Regions from separate parts of the Homo sapiens genome. Here region 2 is linked to region 1. The links come from fine-mapping of genetic effects on gene expression. Tissue or cell type: whole blood. Region 1 holds a variant in brackets; the other region holds the start of a gene. All regions are shown on one strand. Distances are from middle to middle.

Region 1 (8,104 bases):
TCAATAAAAAAGCTGCCTTTTCCCATCAGGTGTCTTCAGAGTGTTCTGTACATATCTTTGAGAAACAGCCTGGAGAGTTATTGATAATTTGGCCAGTTAGGGAGTAGTTAGCCTTAAATTTGAGAGGACCTCTGGGGATGGGATGAAAGAAGCCTAGGGCAAGGGCAGGGCCAGGAGAGGAGGAGGGCAAGGTTGGTTTGTGAAGGGGAGTTGGTGCTGGGCACTTATTCCAGCAGTTCTAGCTGAGTACCTGTTAGGTCCTTTGCTAGGATTTGGAGGAGGATGCAAAGGTAGGAAGCTGCTTTCACAGTATTTATGATCTAGTCCTGGAGATAAAATACAGCAAACCCATAGCTTTGCATCATTGCCTAATTATTTAATACCGAGTTACAGTATTGAGTACAATGGGCTGTCAGAGAAGGCAGAGAGTGATGTGGTTGGAGAGGCTTCATTGGAAGAGGTGAGACCACAAACATCCCTGAAGAATGGGTCTCAGGTAGAAGCAGGAGAGAGAACGCTGTATAGGCTGAAATGTATAGGCCGACTTATAATTCCACTTGCCCTGCTTCTCATTTATTCTCAGCATTTCTATATATTCATTCATATCCTCTTTCAAGATCTTCATGTTTTCAATTTTTTTTTTTTTTGAGACGGAGTCTCACCCTGTCACCCAGGCTGGAGTGCAATGGCGTGATCTTGGCTCACTGTAACGTCCGCCTCCCGGGTTCAAATGATTCTCCTGCCTCAGTCTCCTGAGTAGCTGGGATTACAGGCGCCCGCCACCACGCCCAGCTAATTTTTGTATTTTTAGTAGAGATGGGGTTTCACCATGCTGGACAGGCTGGTCTCGAACTCCTGACCTCGTGATCCACCCACCTTGGCCTCCCAAAATGCTGGGATTACAGGCATGAGCCACCGTGCCTGGCCCCATGTTTTAACTCTTTATCAAAGTACCCCCAAAAAGTATAGGACTTATGCATTATTTGTCAGACCATTTTTTTTGTTGTTTGAAGTCCAGGGTTGCCGCTTGGTCAGCCGTGGCTGACGGATGGTGTTCTATGGCCTCTGCAGTAGCCCTGCAGGACCTGAGTGAGAATGTCCTTGGGTGAGTTGTGTACCTTCAGTTTGACCCACTCCTTGCCACTATTCTGGTCCTACACCTGACCTGACTCAACATTGATATTACGTGCCTTTGTAGGGACTTGAGTTTGCAACTCCTGGTGTTAAGACTGCATTGGACTTTTTAATGATCGCCATTCTAACTGGTGTGAGATGGTATCTCATTGTGGTTTTGATTTGCATTTCTCTGATGGCCAGGAAACAACAGATACTGGAGAGGATGTGGAGAAATAGGAACACTTTTACACTGTTGGTGGGACTGTAAACTAGTTCAACCAGCGTGGCGATTCCTCAAGAATCTAGAACTAGAAATACCATTTGACCCAGCCATCCCATTACTGGGTATATACCCAAAGGATTATAAATCATGCTGCTACAAAGACACATGCACACGTATGTTTATTGCGGCACTATTCACAATAGCAAAGACTTGGAACCAACCCAAATGTCCATCAATGATAGACTGGATTAAGAAAATGTGGCACATATACACCATGGAATACTATGCAGCCATAAAAAAGGATGAGTTCATGTCCTTTGTAGGGACATGGATGAAGCTGGAAACCATCATTCTCAGCAAACTATTGCAAGGACAAAAAACCAAACACCGCATGTTCTCACTTATAGGTGGGAATTGAACAATGAGAACACTTGGACACAGGAAGGGGGGGAACATCACACATCGAGGCCTGTGGTGGGGTGGGGGGGAGGGGGGAAGGATAGCATTAGGAGATACACCTAATGTAAATGACGAGTTAATGGGTGCAGCACACCAACGTGGCACATGTATACGTATGTAACAAACCTGCACGTTGTGCTCATGTACTCTAGAACTTAAAATATAATTAAAAAAAAAAAAAGACTGCATTGGAAACAGGAAAAGGAACCTTGCATAAGAAGTTCTAATTGTTCAGCTGAGCATGGTGGCTTACGTCTGTAATCCCAGCACTTTGTGAGGCCGAGGCGGGTGGATCACCTGAGGCCTGGAGTTCAAGACCAGCCTGGCCAAAATGGTGAAACCTCATTTCTACTAAAAATACAAAAAATTAGCCGGGTGTGGTGGTGGGTGCCTGTAATCCTAGCTACTTGGGAGGCTGAGGCAGGGGAATCTCTTGAACCCAGGGGGCAGAGGTTGTAGTGAGCCAAGATCGTGCCAGTGCACTCCAGCCTGGGCAACAAGAGCAAAACTCCATCTCAAAAAAAAAAAAAGTTCTAATTGTTCTTCGTTTAAAACCTAACCTGCCCTTTTTCCAGATCTCCTTTAAAATTCTCTTCTGCCCGTTTATGGAAGGAAGTAACATATTGTCCTTTTGTTAAGGCTTCTTTCCCTTATTTTCCCTTGGATAATGCCTGGCTTCTTCACACTGGGGCTGGACTGAAAGTTAGAAGCTTGGAGCAGCATGTGCTTAGTGATTTCTAAAGTGTGGAAAGCGCCTTTCTGTAATTAGCCTGAGGAATACTTTCAATATCCAGTAATAAGTGAAGATAGGATTAGGAATGGAAGCTACATTTCAACCTGAAATTTTCAGTTTGCTTTGTGGATATGTTATCTTCTTGGCATTTATTTTGGCCATTTGCTGTCCTTTGGGTAATGTCTGTTTTGGGGGTTGGTAGAGTTGATAAATGACTGGCAAACACTATAATAATTCTTCTTCTTTTTTTTTTTTCTGGTGACATTTTTCCTGCTTTGAGTTTGTCTATGGTCTAGTAAACTCCAAGTAAGTGCCTGTGGTTATAGCTGGGATAGAAGCCCGGGAAACTCACAGATCACATCTGGGCTCTGCCTGTGGCTTAAAGAGGAGCCATCCTCGTGAGTCTTGGTTTCTTGGTTCCAGCCTCACATAGATGAAATGGGCATTCATCATTATTTGTGGTGGTCTTGAATAAAAGACTGAGTGGTGTGAGGTGTTTATAACCTGCAAGGCAATTAGGGGAGAACAGTAACTTTGCTTATCTTGACCTCTTGGGGAATGGGCTGGTTCTTTCCAAGGTTTCCCATGGTAAGGACTGATGTGAGTGGGGTCAGGAAGGTCAAGGGTAATGAGCAGAAGTTACTGGATTTCTTCTGTGCCTGTGTTGCTTGTACGGTGCCTGCAGTGGGGGGCCAAAGTGCGGAGCTCTCTACTGAGTGCCATCATATGTCACCTTCCCTCCTTGGCAGGCACTAAGTGACCGCTTCAGCGGTGAGATCCCCGATGACCAGATGGCGCACAGCTCCTTTTTTCCAGATGAGTATTTCACCTGCTCCTCCTTGTGCCTCAGCTGTGGGTAAGTAAGGCCGCTCCCCCACCTCCCACCCCATACCTTGAGAATAGAGCCTTTGAGTGGTGCTTCCTAGACTTTGGTGTGGATGCAGATCCCCTGGGATCTTGCTAAATTACAGGTTCTGATTTAAATTATCCAAAATGGTACACTCCCATGTTCCCACAAGATCCTGGTGGTCTAGGAACCACACTTCTGAGGTAGCAAGAGCTTGAAGGACACATGGTGGTGAAGAATCTCCTGGAAATTCCAGCTGGTATAGATGTGAAATTGACCAGCTTCTGGTTTGGGAGGTTTTTAGGGCAGAAGACTTTGGGTTGCCTGCTTTTCTGTGTTTTTTCTACCAGAGTTTCCAGTCACTTATTCATAGTATTCTAAGTATTCAAGTGATATTTGAGTGCCCCCCCTGTGCAAAACACTATGGGTCGGTATTGATTCCAGGTGATTCCTTTCACTATTAGGGGAAATGTTTAGAGCACATTAGAATTTTCTGGGGAGCTTTCAAAATTATTTATGCCAGGGCACCACCTTCTGGGATTCTAATTAACGGGTCGTGTGTAGGACCTCTGCATTGCTATGTTTAAGATGCTCCTCAGAGGATTCTAAAGTGCAGCCCGAGCTGAGGACATTGAGTTGGGACAGTGCTTCCGAAACTTCAATTGTGTATGCATCACCTTGAGATTCTGTTAGAATGCAGATTCGGAATCAGGTCTGGGTGAAACCTGAGATTCTGCATTTCTGTCAAGCTCCCGGGCAATGGCTGTGCCTTTGGTTTGTGGACCGCACTTTGTTATGGTTAGAGCAGTGATCCGCAAATTTTAGCATGCATCAGAAAAACCTGAAGGGCAGGATCACTGGGTGCCCCCTCCACAGTTTCTAATTCAGTAGGTCTGAGATAGGGCCTGGGAGTTTGCATTTTAATAAATTTAATAAATTCTCGGCCGGGCACGGTGGCTTACGCCTGTAATCCCAGCACTTGGGGAGGCCGAGGCAGGTGGATCACGAGGTCAGCAGATCGAGACTATGGTGAAACCCTGTCTCTACTAAAAATACAAAAAAATTAGCCTGGCACGGTGGCCGGCGCCTGTAGTCCCAGCTACTCGGGAGGCTGAGGCAGGAGAATGGCGTGAACCCGGGAGGCGGAGCCCGCAGTGAGCTGAGATTGCGCCACTGCACTCCAGCCTGGGCGACAGAGTGAGACTCTTTCTCAAAATAAATAAATAAATAAATAAATAAATAAATAAATAAATAAATAAATTAATTAATTC[T/ATTCT]CAGGTGATGCTGATGTTCATGGGGACCACCCTTTGAGGATCACTGGATTAGTTTGAACTGTTGATGGCTGTTAAATCAGTGTGGTGACTTGTCTGATGGGCCCCAGGGGATTTAAATGCAGTGTGTCGAGGTCAGATGGCAGCCTCCATGTCCTGTAGACAATCCCTTCCACTCTTCACTACCAAATTGTCTTTGCTTCTACCAGAACCACCCTGTCCTGCACACTTCTCCTTTTACAGGAGTAGACCTGACCTACATCTGTTATGAATGGTCATTTCACTTTGAGTCCTGTAGGCCACCTGCTGCATGCAGAACCACCTCTGACCTTGCCGAGAAAAAGACCTGCTTCTTGGATTATACAGCCTGGGCAAGGGAGAACTAAGGATTATCTTGGAGAGTTCAGTTTGGAAAGGGGAGAGGGATGTTAGTTGACAGTGTGACTTACCTTCCTTTTTGCATGCCCCATGAGCCCAGCACAAGAGACTTAAGCACTGTTGGATCATTGCTTTCCCATTGTGAGCCTCCCCAGGATTTCTGGAACTTTCCCTTTTATCATAGTGAAATTCTAAAGTCCTGATCTCTGTTTTTGCATTATCAGGATGGCAGAGCTCATTGTTCATTTGGAAGGCTTGTTCAGCCTAAGCCTCCCCTTAATGCATTGCCAAATTTTGGGGTTGGTTTTCATTTTGCATCTTGGCAGCCTGTTCTGGGTAAACGTTCCATTTCATCTTGTTTGGATTTTTTGAGTCTTCTGAGAGACGTTCAGGTTTCCTCTCTGGTCAAGTTGGTATCTTATGGCTCCTCCATTTCTGCTGAGGGGACAGGTAGTTTTTCCAACAAGGGATTTCTGGGTGTATTTTTTTTTTTTTTTTTAAAGACAGAGTCTCGCTGTTGCCCAGGCTGGAGTATAGCGGTGTGATCTTGGCTTACTGCAACCTCCGCCTCCTGGATTCAAGTGATTCTCCTGCCTCAGCCTCCTGAGTAGCTGGGATTACAGGCATGAGCCACTATGCCTGGCTAATTTTTTTGTATTTTTAGTAGAGACGGGGTTTCTCCATGTTGGTCAGGCTGGTCTTGAACTCACTGCAACCTCCACCTCCTGGGTTCAAGCGATTCTCCTGCCTCAGCCTCCCGAGTACCTGGGACTATGGGTGCCCGCCACCATGCCCGGCTAAGTTTTGTATTTTTGGTAGAGTCGATGTTTCACCATGTTGGCTAGGCTGGTCTTGAACTTCTGACCTGAAGTGATCTGCCCCCGTCGGCCTCCCAAAGTACTGGGATTACAGACGTGAGCCACCGTGCCCGGCTGAGATTTCTTTTTCCCCTGTGTCCTCATACAAGGATAGTAGTCGCTGTGCCTCTGTAGTGCTGTTGATTGCAAGTGTAACAAAGAGGCATGTGGGTTTCCGGCTACCCTTTCTGTGTTCAGCATCTGAGGCCCAGTTAGTAATCAAGGTCTGGTCGTGGCCTTGTGCCTGGCTCAGGGTCAGGCTGTTCTGTGTAAGTGGCACTGGCTCCTTTAGCCGTCTCATTGTCAGTCTTTGGGCTTCATTCAGGGTTGGATGTAAGAAAAGCATGAATCATGGGAAGGAAGGAGTGCCTCATGAAGCCAAGAGCCGCTGCAGATACTCCCACCAGTATGACAACCGAGTGTATACCTGCAAGGTGAGTCCTCCGAGCTCCTCCCTGTGTCAGCAGCGGGCTTGCTGACCACTCTCTCTTTGGCAAGACTATCTTGGGGCCATTTTTTGCTGCATGCTGAAGTATTTGATATTCAAATTGAATATTTCTGGAACTTCTCTCCAGCTCTAACAAAAAGCACTCACATGTCTTCATTGGTGAGGGTCCCTTTGTTTACTGTTTTAAGCTTATTTTCTTCTCATTCTGTTGAGCTTGTATGTAAGGGTAATTTATATCGAACATTCATTCTTTTTTTTTTTTTTTTTTTTTTTTTTTTTTGAGACAGAGTCTTGCTCTGTCAGCCAGGCTGGAGTGCAGTGGCACAATCTTGGCTTACTGCAACCTCCACCTCCTGGGCTGCAGCAATTCTCCTGCCTGAGCCTCCTGAGTAGCTGGGATTACAGATGTGTGCCACCATGCCCAGCTAATTTTTGTATTTTTAGTAGAGACAGGGTTTCACCATGTTGGCCAGGCTGATCTCGAACTCCTGAGATCGGGCAGATTGCTTGAGCCCAGGAGTTCACAACCAGCCTGGGCTGGTAAAACCCCGTGTCTATTAAAAAAACAAACAAAAAACAAACAATAAGCTAGCAGAGTGTTTCCTGTTTCAGGCCTGCTATGAGAGAGGCGAGGAAGTCAGTGTAGTGCCCAAAACATCTGCTTCCACTGACTCCCCCTGGATGGGTCTCGCAAAATATGCCTGGTCTGGGTGAGTTTAAACAACATGGCTCAAGGTTTTCTGGTGCGTTTGTCTCCCCAGGCACCTGGCTGGGTAACAGTATTGATTTGCTTTCCTTGTAGGTATGTGATCGAATGTCCTAACTGTGGCGTGGTCTATCGTAGTCGGCAGTACTGGTTTGGAAACCAAGATCCTGTGGATACGGTGGTGCGGACAGAGATTGTGCATGTGTGGCCTGGAGTAAGAACTGTTGGATTTCTCTGTTTTTCTTTATCTTGTGTCGTTCAGTTTTTCATGTGTATAGAAAACTGGAACCTGCTTAAAATTAAGGTTAACCATGAATTTCAGAATGTTGGCGGTTTAGAAAGGCATGATCTGGAGAGCTTTTTTGTTCTCTAGACCAAAATTGTTTTTATTTTTTCTTGCATATATATTAGAAGTACAACTTTAAATGAAATAAACTAAAAATCTATAGTTTTACTCCTTTGGCAAATAAAACGTTTTTGCATGTTCTACTCATTCATTTTCTATATGTGTATGTTTTTCTAGATGCAAATATTTACATGCCTTTTTCCTGCTTTTTTTCCTCACAATGCTATTTTATTTAGTTTTATTTCCACCTTTTTAAAAAGATCATTAAAATGCTAGTCACCATCTTCGTGTAAGAAAGCCATTTTTTTGTTATAGGAAATTTTCTTGAAGTATATTCTAAGAAGTGGGATTCCTATAGACGCTTAATCTTTTTTTTTTTGAGACGGAGTTTCGCTCTTGTTCCCCAGGCTGAAGTGCAATGGTGAGATCTTGGCTCTCTTGGCTCACTGCAATCTCCACCTCCCGGGTTCAAGTGATTCTCCTGCCTCAGCTTCCCGAGTAGCTGGGATTACAGGCACGACCGCCACGCCCGGCTAATTTTGTATTTTCAGTAAAGACAGGGTTTCTCCATGTTGGTCAGGCTGGTTTCAAACTCCCGACCTCAGGTGACCTGCCCACCTCGGCCTCCCAAAGGGCTGGGATTATGGGCGTGAGCCACCGCGCCCAGTTTAATGATTATTTTTTAACTTTTGAATTCCAGATGTCAGAAATACAAATCTGTTT
Region 2 (8,104 bases), 480 kb before region 1:
AAGCTTTAGGGTGATGAATCAATGTTCCCCAAATTACACAGTTGGTAAATGGCAGAGCCAAAGCTTTTGGAACATACTAAGTTCGAGGTTCTAGGGTCTGAGTTTAAGTCTGCTTTCTCATGAGGTTCCAAGTGATTGGGACACTGCAGTTCTGGAAGAATTCTACTCTCTGAAATCCTTGGAGGATAGCCATGTTTCCAGGAAACTCTTTGTGTGCATAAAAACAGAGATGGACAAAAGTTTAAATGGTGCTAAGTGCTTTGAGTCGGTCCACTCCCTGCTGCAGAAGAATGGCTGATCCACCCATAGATCTGGTGATAGTAACCAGGAGCTCCAGTCAATAGCACAATGGCAGAACTCAGAGCTACAGCCCATCCATTTTTACAAGCGCTCAAGCCATATTATGTAAAGCAGGCGGAAGGGGGCATACACTTTTCTTGAGGATGAAAATGAATGCATTTAGTAATGAAAATGCATAGTGTGGTATTTAAAAATTACATGAGCTCTGGAATCAAATAACAAATGGTTCTGCCTGAGAGACCAGAACACCTTCTTTCACTGATTTTTTTTTCCTTCCCATCCCTGAAACAGAGCCTTGAACTTTGAAACCACAGTACCTTGTTCCAGCGTGGAAAGCAGCGTGGCACTTCCCGGTGGTGAAAGCACCCCAGCTTGAAAGGGTGAAAACACCTTCTCCCAGATAGTCTCCCTTTGTTTAGCCAGTGCTTTTGCCTTAAGGAAATCAAATGAAGGTATGCTCCTTGGTTGGCTGCTGAATCTGTCCTTCCTTGTCAGCTTTGCCCAGAGCAGCAGGCTTTGAGCTCTGGGAGGATTTCCAGGTGGCAGCAGAACAACGGTCCCATAGGCTGGAGCCTGGCACGCTTTCCCTTTTAACCAGTGGCAGAGGCTGCACTTTGCTGGTGTAATTATGCAACCTAGTGTAAAGTCCACATGGGTGGGGATAGGGGGTAGGCAAGGCAGGACTGTAAGCTGGCTCAGCACTCTGATTGGGTTTTTTGACTGTTTTTCTAGCTTTTCTTACCCTTTTCTCTCCTGCCCCCTCATCTCCTCCTCTTCCCTCCTTTTCCCTCCCCTTCTCTCTAATCCCTTCATCTTTGTCAGCCTCCACCCTCAGGGATCCCTAACTCAGGAAGCTACCTCTTATCAAATATTTTGGCTTGCCTCCAACTGCTAGTGGCAGGCAGTTCTGGCCCTTGTCTGCTATCTGAGCGATTTTCTTCTCCACCGGTTGTTTATTTCTCTAATCTAGTTGGAATTGGAATCGTGTGTAGAATCCAGAGGAAGAAAATCCAAAAGCAAAAAATGGATCCTTTCCCTAGTGAGATTGCCCCTGTGGGCTAAAATAGAAATGGAAAGAGACTTGGATTCTTTTCCCTTGAAAAGTGACATTATGAAAGAGCAGGAGAAACAGCATTAGTGTACAGGAAAGCCCAAGGCACACTATATCACTCCTCAGATATTGGACATCACTCTGAGTCCTCTATTTTCTGCTTAATTGGGATTATAAATGCTATTTTTGCCCCGAATGTACCTGCCATCTTGGTCGTGCCCAAGTGGCTCTGAACAGATACCATCTGCAGGACCTCCACAGCCAGCCATGCAACAGGAAGCTGCAGACTCCCAGACTCCAGTGTTCTTGTTTTCTGAGAGGGAGCCCTGAGAATGGTAGAGAAGCAAAAAACACAGGAAAGAAAAGAAAAAAGCTGGATGGAGTAATTACATGATAGGGTTACCTTGTGCACGTGAAAGCAAAATGTAGGGATACAAGCAATAACCCCTCCGGTACTGCACAGTCTTTGATAACACAATAGCCTTCTGTTATTTCAAGGCATGTTCCTTGAAACCTTCCTTAAGGTTTTCCCACTACTTACTGGGTTGTAACATATTTATTTTATATGTCCTTTCTTAACTGATATTCACAAAGAATAGGAATGATAGATGTGTGTATATGAGCAAAAGCATTTATACATGCTTTCTTTTTTTTTTTTTTTTTAGTGTATGAAATAGCGGCTGACTTTTGTGACAATTTTCCACCCAGTTTTGTGATAGTAATTTCGCTGCATTCTTCAACTTAGATGGCAAGTCCTCTTAGCAAGGCTGGCCTAATTCTATGTTTTCTATGGCACCTAGTCACTATGGCTGTGCAAGAGCCATTATTACCCAAAGTACCATAATAATGGTCATGTCCTCCTATGACGTTATTGTTTCCTATCTGTCAGGACATTAATTGTCTTCTAACTTGCTCTAAAATTGGTAGCATGGCACACTGCCAAGACTAGAGAGAAGCAAGCTGCTGGTGATATATTAAAAGGCTGTGTAAAAGGACATATTGGTATTTGCTTTTTCTTGGGGCATCTTCACATTTGCATTACTTCACATGTTATGGGATGTTAGCTCAGGCTTGCCTTATGTCTTGGCGTCTATCTTATCATGGTCAATGTCTGATCTTTCCTTCAGCTGAATGATTCAGACATCTCTAAGTTATTTTGGCTTTTCCACTTTCCTTTCACAGGCTTTTTGTGAGTCATTGAATTGAATGGGAGGTTATTTCTAAATTGGAAGGTGAGGAAGAGAGGAGGGGGAGGAAAGTTCCGGAAAATAACTAGGAAAAGGCACTTTATTGTTATGTATAGTTACTGGAGGAATAATTTCTGCTTAGTCTGGTGATAGAAGTATGTACTTTATTTAAACTTGACTAAAAATATAGGCTAGAAAAAAGACAATATTTTTCTGAATAATAAACCATACAGTTTTAGACTCTTTGTAGCTTGCTCTGCAAAGAACAAGGAGGTTAGTAAATAGAAGAAATATGAGACAAAGGGTTAGCAGAAAGAAGAAAGAGACAAAGCACATTTCCAAAGTCCACATCCTTGAGGTGAATGCCTCCTTGACAGTGTCTTTTTTTTTTTTTTTTTTTAAGACAGAGTCTCACTCTGTTGCCCAGGCTGGAGTGCAGTGGCACCATCTGCAGAGACAGGGGTTTCACCATGTTAGTCAGGCTGGTCTCAAACTCCTGACCTCAGGTGATCTGCCCGGCTCGGCCTCCCAGAGTGCTGGGATAACAGGCATGAGCCACCGCACGGCCTGACAGTGTCTTAAACTATCCCTGGGTGTTGTTTCATGGCCCATGGGTATATGTATCATAGGTGGGGTTGTGAGAAAGTACATTTAAATCTGATTTAGAAACTGAAAGAGTAATCAGACCAGCATTTTGTTATTTAGGAGCAGGAAAAGTGGGTGAAAAAAAAGGAAAAACAAAAAGCTAATGATGAATATATTTCTAGGAGCACAAGAGTTTTTATAGCAACATTAGATTTCTCAAAAATGCCTACTGTGATTTGTACCCAAGTGAATAAAAAATGCAATCATTTATTCTTGTGCATTGTGCCAAGTGAGGAAAAAAAAAAAACACACACACACACAACCCGGCAATTCATTCAATGGCCCTAATTTAGACTGCTAGGAAGAGGTTTAGAAAAAAAAAAGAGAGAGAGAGAGAGAAGCTTTTAAAGTATCTGACACACAGCTAGTAGGGCTATTTAAGAACTGCTGAACAGAAAAACAAAGTGGCAGTGAGAGGTGGGGGAAAGCAGAATTCTCATTTCCAGAGCATCATAAAGGGTATAATGTGGCCCGCTTATTAGAAAGTTGCTGGCCGGGCGCGGTGGCTTACGCCTGTAATACCAGCACTTTGGGAGGCCGAGGCGGGCGGATCACCTGAGGTTGGGAGTTCGAGACTAGCCTGACCAACATGGAGAAACCCCGTCTCATGCCTATAATCCCAGCTACTCGGGAGGCTAAGGCAGAAGAATCGCTTGAACCTGGGAGGCGTAGGTTGCGATGAGCCGAGATAGCACCATTGCACTCCAGCCTGGGCAACAAGAGAGAAACTCCGTCTCACAGAAAAAAAAAAAAAAAAAAAAAGTTGCTAATGGCTGTCTGGTCAATTGGCAGGGGTCAGCCAGGAGTGGATCTGGAAGCTGGAGAACTCTCAATACGCCACTTCAGTTTATTGACGACATTTATAATTGCAACCGAAGTTGACTGATTTCTGCTAAATGAAAGTTTGCGCTTTGCCCTTTAGCATTGAGGCTCCTGGAAAGAACTTCAATGAAATTGGATGCATTGAGACCAAAGAAAAGAAGGGGACATTTTTATCTCTCTGATACCTTTCTCCCCAGGGCTTGGAAACACTTCTTAAACACAACCTCTAATGTTGGTGTTTTGTAAGTACTACCCCTATGAATAAAGCTAGCAGAGATAAGCTTCTCCTTGCAGGAAGTGAGCTGGAGAAGTGGAAAAGTTTACAGAGAAAACTCTACAACAAAGACTTAACCCTTCCCGGGTAACCACGAATGTGAGCGTCTGCCCCTCCTTTGCTTTCTACTGCGCAACCAAACTGTGCACAAGCGTGAATCAACCTTAACCGTCACGTCTCTTGCCAGTTAGCTTAACAGACACTTTTAGCAGCCTATCATAACTTCGAATTGCCCAACCCTCAACCAATTACAACTAAAGCTTGGGCTAGGACGCTCCAGGTCCGGGCGGGGGCGAATACCGGGTTTAGGAAAAGGGGCGGTAAAGAGCGATGACGGGCGGGTATACTAAACCAATCAGAGAGGAGAGCTGCCGCCCCACTATCCAATGGATAGGTTAGAAGTATGAAAGAGGGTGGGCCTGTTGTCATGGGGGAGGTGGTGGCGCTTGGTGGCCACTGGCGGCCGAGGTAGAGGCAGTGGCGCTTGAGTTGGTCGGGGGCAGCGGCAGGTGAGTGCCGGTAACGCGGGTCAGAGATCTGGGGGCCGTCGCGGGGCGGAATCTCCAGCTCAGCACTCCGGAGGCGGAGGCCGGAGGAAGGGGGCCTGGACTTCGGGTCGGGGCCCGGGCCGGGGCCGGGGCCAGGGCGGAGGCGGCGGGGGCGGCGGCGAGTTCGCGCTGACTGGGCTAGGGGGAGAGGGGCTGGGCTTCTGGCTGCGGAGTTCTCCCGAGGAAGGTAGGCTACGGCCGGACCCGCGCGGGTCAGGCCAGGAGGTCCCTTGGGACGTCCAGCTGCTCCGGTCTAGCGCGCTGACCGGCGGCCACTGTGTGAGGAGTAGGTATCTGAGGAAACGGAAGCGGCCAGGGTCCCAGAGAGGGGGTGACCTGTAACGACCTGCTTCAAGGGCGGGGTGTCTTGGGAATACCCAGGACGGCTTGGGTGCCAGGGAGAAAAGGAATCCGGGAAGCCCGGCAGCGGCCGGTGAGGAGAGAGCGGGGTGGGGGGCAGGGGAACTGGGAGTGGCCCCGGTCCGAGGGAGGTAGGAAGGCCGAGGGTGGCCAGGGTCCCGGGTGACAGGGAGCAGACTTGCTCCAAGTAGGGGCGTCTGAGGAAACGCTCGGAGGGGGTTGGGGACCCTCCTGAGAAAAGCGGCTGTCCAAGGGAGGGGGCTCCTGGAGAGATGAGGAGCAGCAGGTCTTCGGAGGGTCGGACGAGTAGAGATCTTGCACCGCCTGGGGGAAGAACCGGAGCTCCCTGCGCCCCCATAGCTGAGCTGGGATGGGAGACCCAACTGGCCTGGCCGCTCCGGCTCTGAGGATCCCTAAGGGACCAGGAAAGAAGTCCTCGAGGAGTGGCTCGCGTTTGAGACCGGGGTGAGGAGCCAGCAGGGGAGTGGAAGTTCCCTCGGTCGGAGAGGAGTCATGCAAAATGGGACGGAGATGGGCGGAGGTGGGAGAGAATCCCTATAGGAGGGGATAAGGTAGAGAAAGAAAGTTGCCCGAGGAGAGAGTAATGGTTTCGTGGAACTGGCTAGGACAGTAGATATATGAGAAATTAACAGTGGAGCCATGTAGGTTCACAGGTCTTCACAAATAGAAGAAACTTCAGTTTCGTAATTAATATCAAGATGACATCTAGGACCAAAGCAAAGCTCCTAAAAGCAAGGTTAAGTGACTTGTTTTAGAAAAGAAATTTGTTTTAGGATGATGGCAGTAATATTAGGAAATAGGTTCATTGACAGGGTGGGGAATTTGGGAGGGAAAAGGGGAGGAGTAGCTGAACTAAAGGAGTAGAAGTAAATACTTATCAGAAAGAGGGTAGGCATACTCGGCTAAAGTGAAAAGAAGTTTTGAGTTCTAGTTCCACCACTTAGCTAAGTTTCTGTGCAGTTTCCTCATCAGAATACTAATAGTAATAGTTCCTACTTTATAAGGTGGTGGTGGTGTTTTTTTTTTCATGTGAGTTGGTATTTGTAGAGCTTTTAGGATAGTGACTGGCACATAGTCGTGTGTACTGGATTGTTCAATAGACGATAAAGACCTGACTTCTTAAATAGAAGGTAAAGACCTGGCTCGCAGATGTTAGCTTGCATCAAAATCACCTGGAGGGCTTGGTAAAATGTAGATTGCTTGGCCCCACCTGGGGGTTTCAGTAGGTCTGGGGTGGGGCCCAATAATTTATATTTATCTCAAATGATGATCACGTTGGTCAGAGGACCACACTTTAAGAACCACTTACTTTAATGAAACCGGTAATAATGGTAGCAACTTTAAAATACCTGCTAAAGAGACAGGTAGAGGCAAATTGCCTAAAAGATCCTATTATAAAGGATACTCATTTTTAGCCTGTGTTTTTCAAACTGTGGATTGTGATTTATTAGTAATTTATAAAATCAATGTTGTGAGTTTTTACCTGCATTGAAAATAAAATGTAGAACAGAATAAACTGACATTGCATTTGGTAAGGAAAAGTATTGTTTTGGGAAACTTTTCTCCTACATGTATGTACTAGGTCACAATGTAAAGTGTATTTCTTTTTTTGAGTTCCTGGCCAAAGGATAAAATATATTTCTTACAGTTAAAAAAGTCTGAAAGCTGGGTGCGGTGGCTCACGCCTATAATCCCAGCACTTTGGGAGGCCAAGGCGGGCGGATCACTTGAGGTCAGGAGTTCAAGATCAGCCTGACCAACATGGTGAGACCCCCATCTTTAAAAAAAATACAAAATTAGCTGGGCGTGGTGGCGCGTGCCTGTAATCCCAGCTACTTGGAAGGCTGAGGCTGGAGAATTGCTTGAACCCCGGAGGTGGAGGTTGCAGTGAGCCGAGATCATGCCATTGCATTCCAGTCTGGGCAACAAGAGTGAAACTCCATCTTAAAAAAAAAAAAAAAGGTTTTTTTGGGAGTATTATATTCCATTAAATTTCTTCAGTTTCTGATTTGGTTCCTCCTGTGTTTGTCTTGTCACATATTGTGTTATGCCTCTGACTCTGGAACTTTTTTGGATATTGAGAATCTTTGGCATGAGAACTTAAGGGAATCTGAGGCAGAGAAATTGAATGGTGTTTCTCAGATGTTGTCCGCTTTTGTTTCACTTGTGCCCTCTTGTTCACCCTTTCTTTTTTATCACTGTACCGTAAAGCATTGTTTGTAAAAGCCTGAGTATACACAGACATATTGACAGTAAACAACACTGAAATGGACTGACTTGAGAAAATTTCATGTATAGAAAATAAGCAAAAACAAAGTAAGAAACACTGCAAAAGAGAAAAATGAAAAGATATTTCCTTTTTAGAGAGTAAAAATATTAAGTATTTCTTATCCTTACACTAATATAAAACATATACAGATATTTTTAAAGGAACTAGATATACAGTTTCTAGGTCTTTGTAGAGAAAAGAAATAGTGGTAATATGTGACAGCAAAATGCACCTGGGATAGAGGCTTAACTACAAAGTAAATCATTTATTAAGAGGGAGCTTTTGTTTAATGGTTTTCTCCCTTGAGAATAAACTGGATGTGGTACATGTTGTAAACTTAACTTGTTTGAGGAACCTAAATGTAATTTACAGCGTGTTTTTAAAAAGAATATGTATGTTTTATCTGTACGTGGTTTGATTTTTCTTCCATTGAAAGCTAGATGGTTTATATTTAGGAGTTGATTTAGATCTGTTTTTATGGCTGTTAAGAACAGGAAGCAGTATTGAAAACTGAAAGAGATCCTTGCAGCTTTCTTTAAAATCTTTAATCCAGGGGATTATGTAACCTCTTCATTAATGTTTTATGAAATTGTGAAGAAACTGTTGGTATAGCTTTGCATCAGGATT

The links. PIP is the estimated chance that this variant, and not a neighbour inherited with it, causes the effect.
Region 2: NUMB starts here. The variant in region 1 is fine-mapped to the expression of NUMB in whole blood (INTERVAL, PIP above 0.99).

What each region holds. Positions count from the first base shown.
Region 1 is chr14:72,977,072-72,985,175 of GRCh38, reverse strand. ZFYVE1 (zinc finger FYVE-type containing 1) reads left to right here. Exons shown (of 12, transcript NM_021260.4): 5 at 3,281-3,387; 6 at 6,207-6,315; 7 at 6,942-7,039; 8 at 7,132-7,249. Among named protein-coding and RNA genes, the nearest start is that of TRC-GCA8-1, 18 kb to the right of the region's middle. The variant T/ATTCT (reference allele first, on the strand shown) is at 4,650.
Region 2 is chr14:73,455,177-73,463,280 of GRCh38, reverse strand. NUMB (NUMB endocytic adaptor protein) reads left to right here and starts at 4,735. Exons shown (of 13, transcript NM_001005743.2): 1 at 4,735-4,788. It overlaps LOC101928143 (a long non-coding RNA gene), which reads left to right. Exons shown (of 3, transcript NR_135251.1): 2 at 592-752; 3 at 2,017-2,346. RefSeq lists enhancers at 3,339-3,872, 3,873-4,406 and silencers at 4,392-4,591, 4,782-4,871, 4,882-5,011.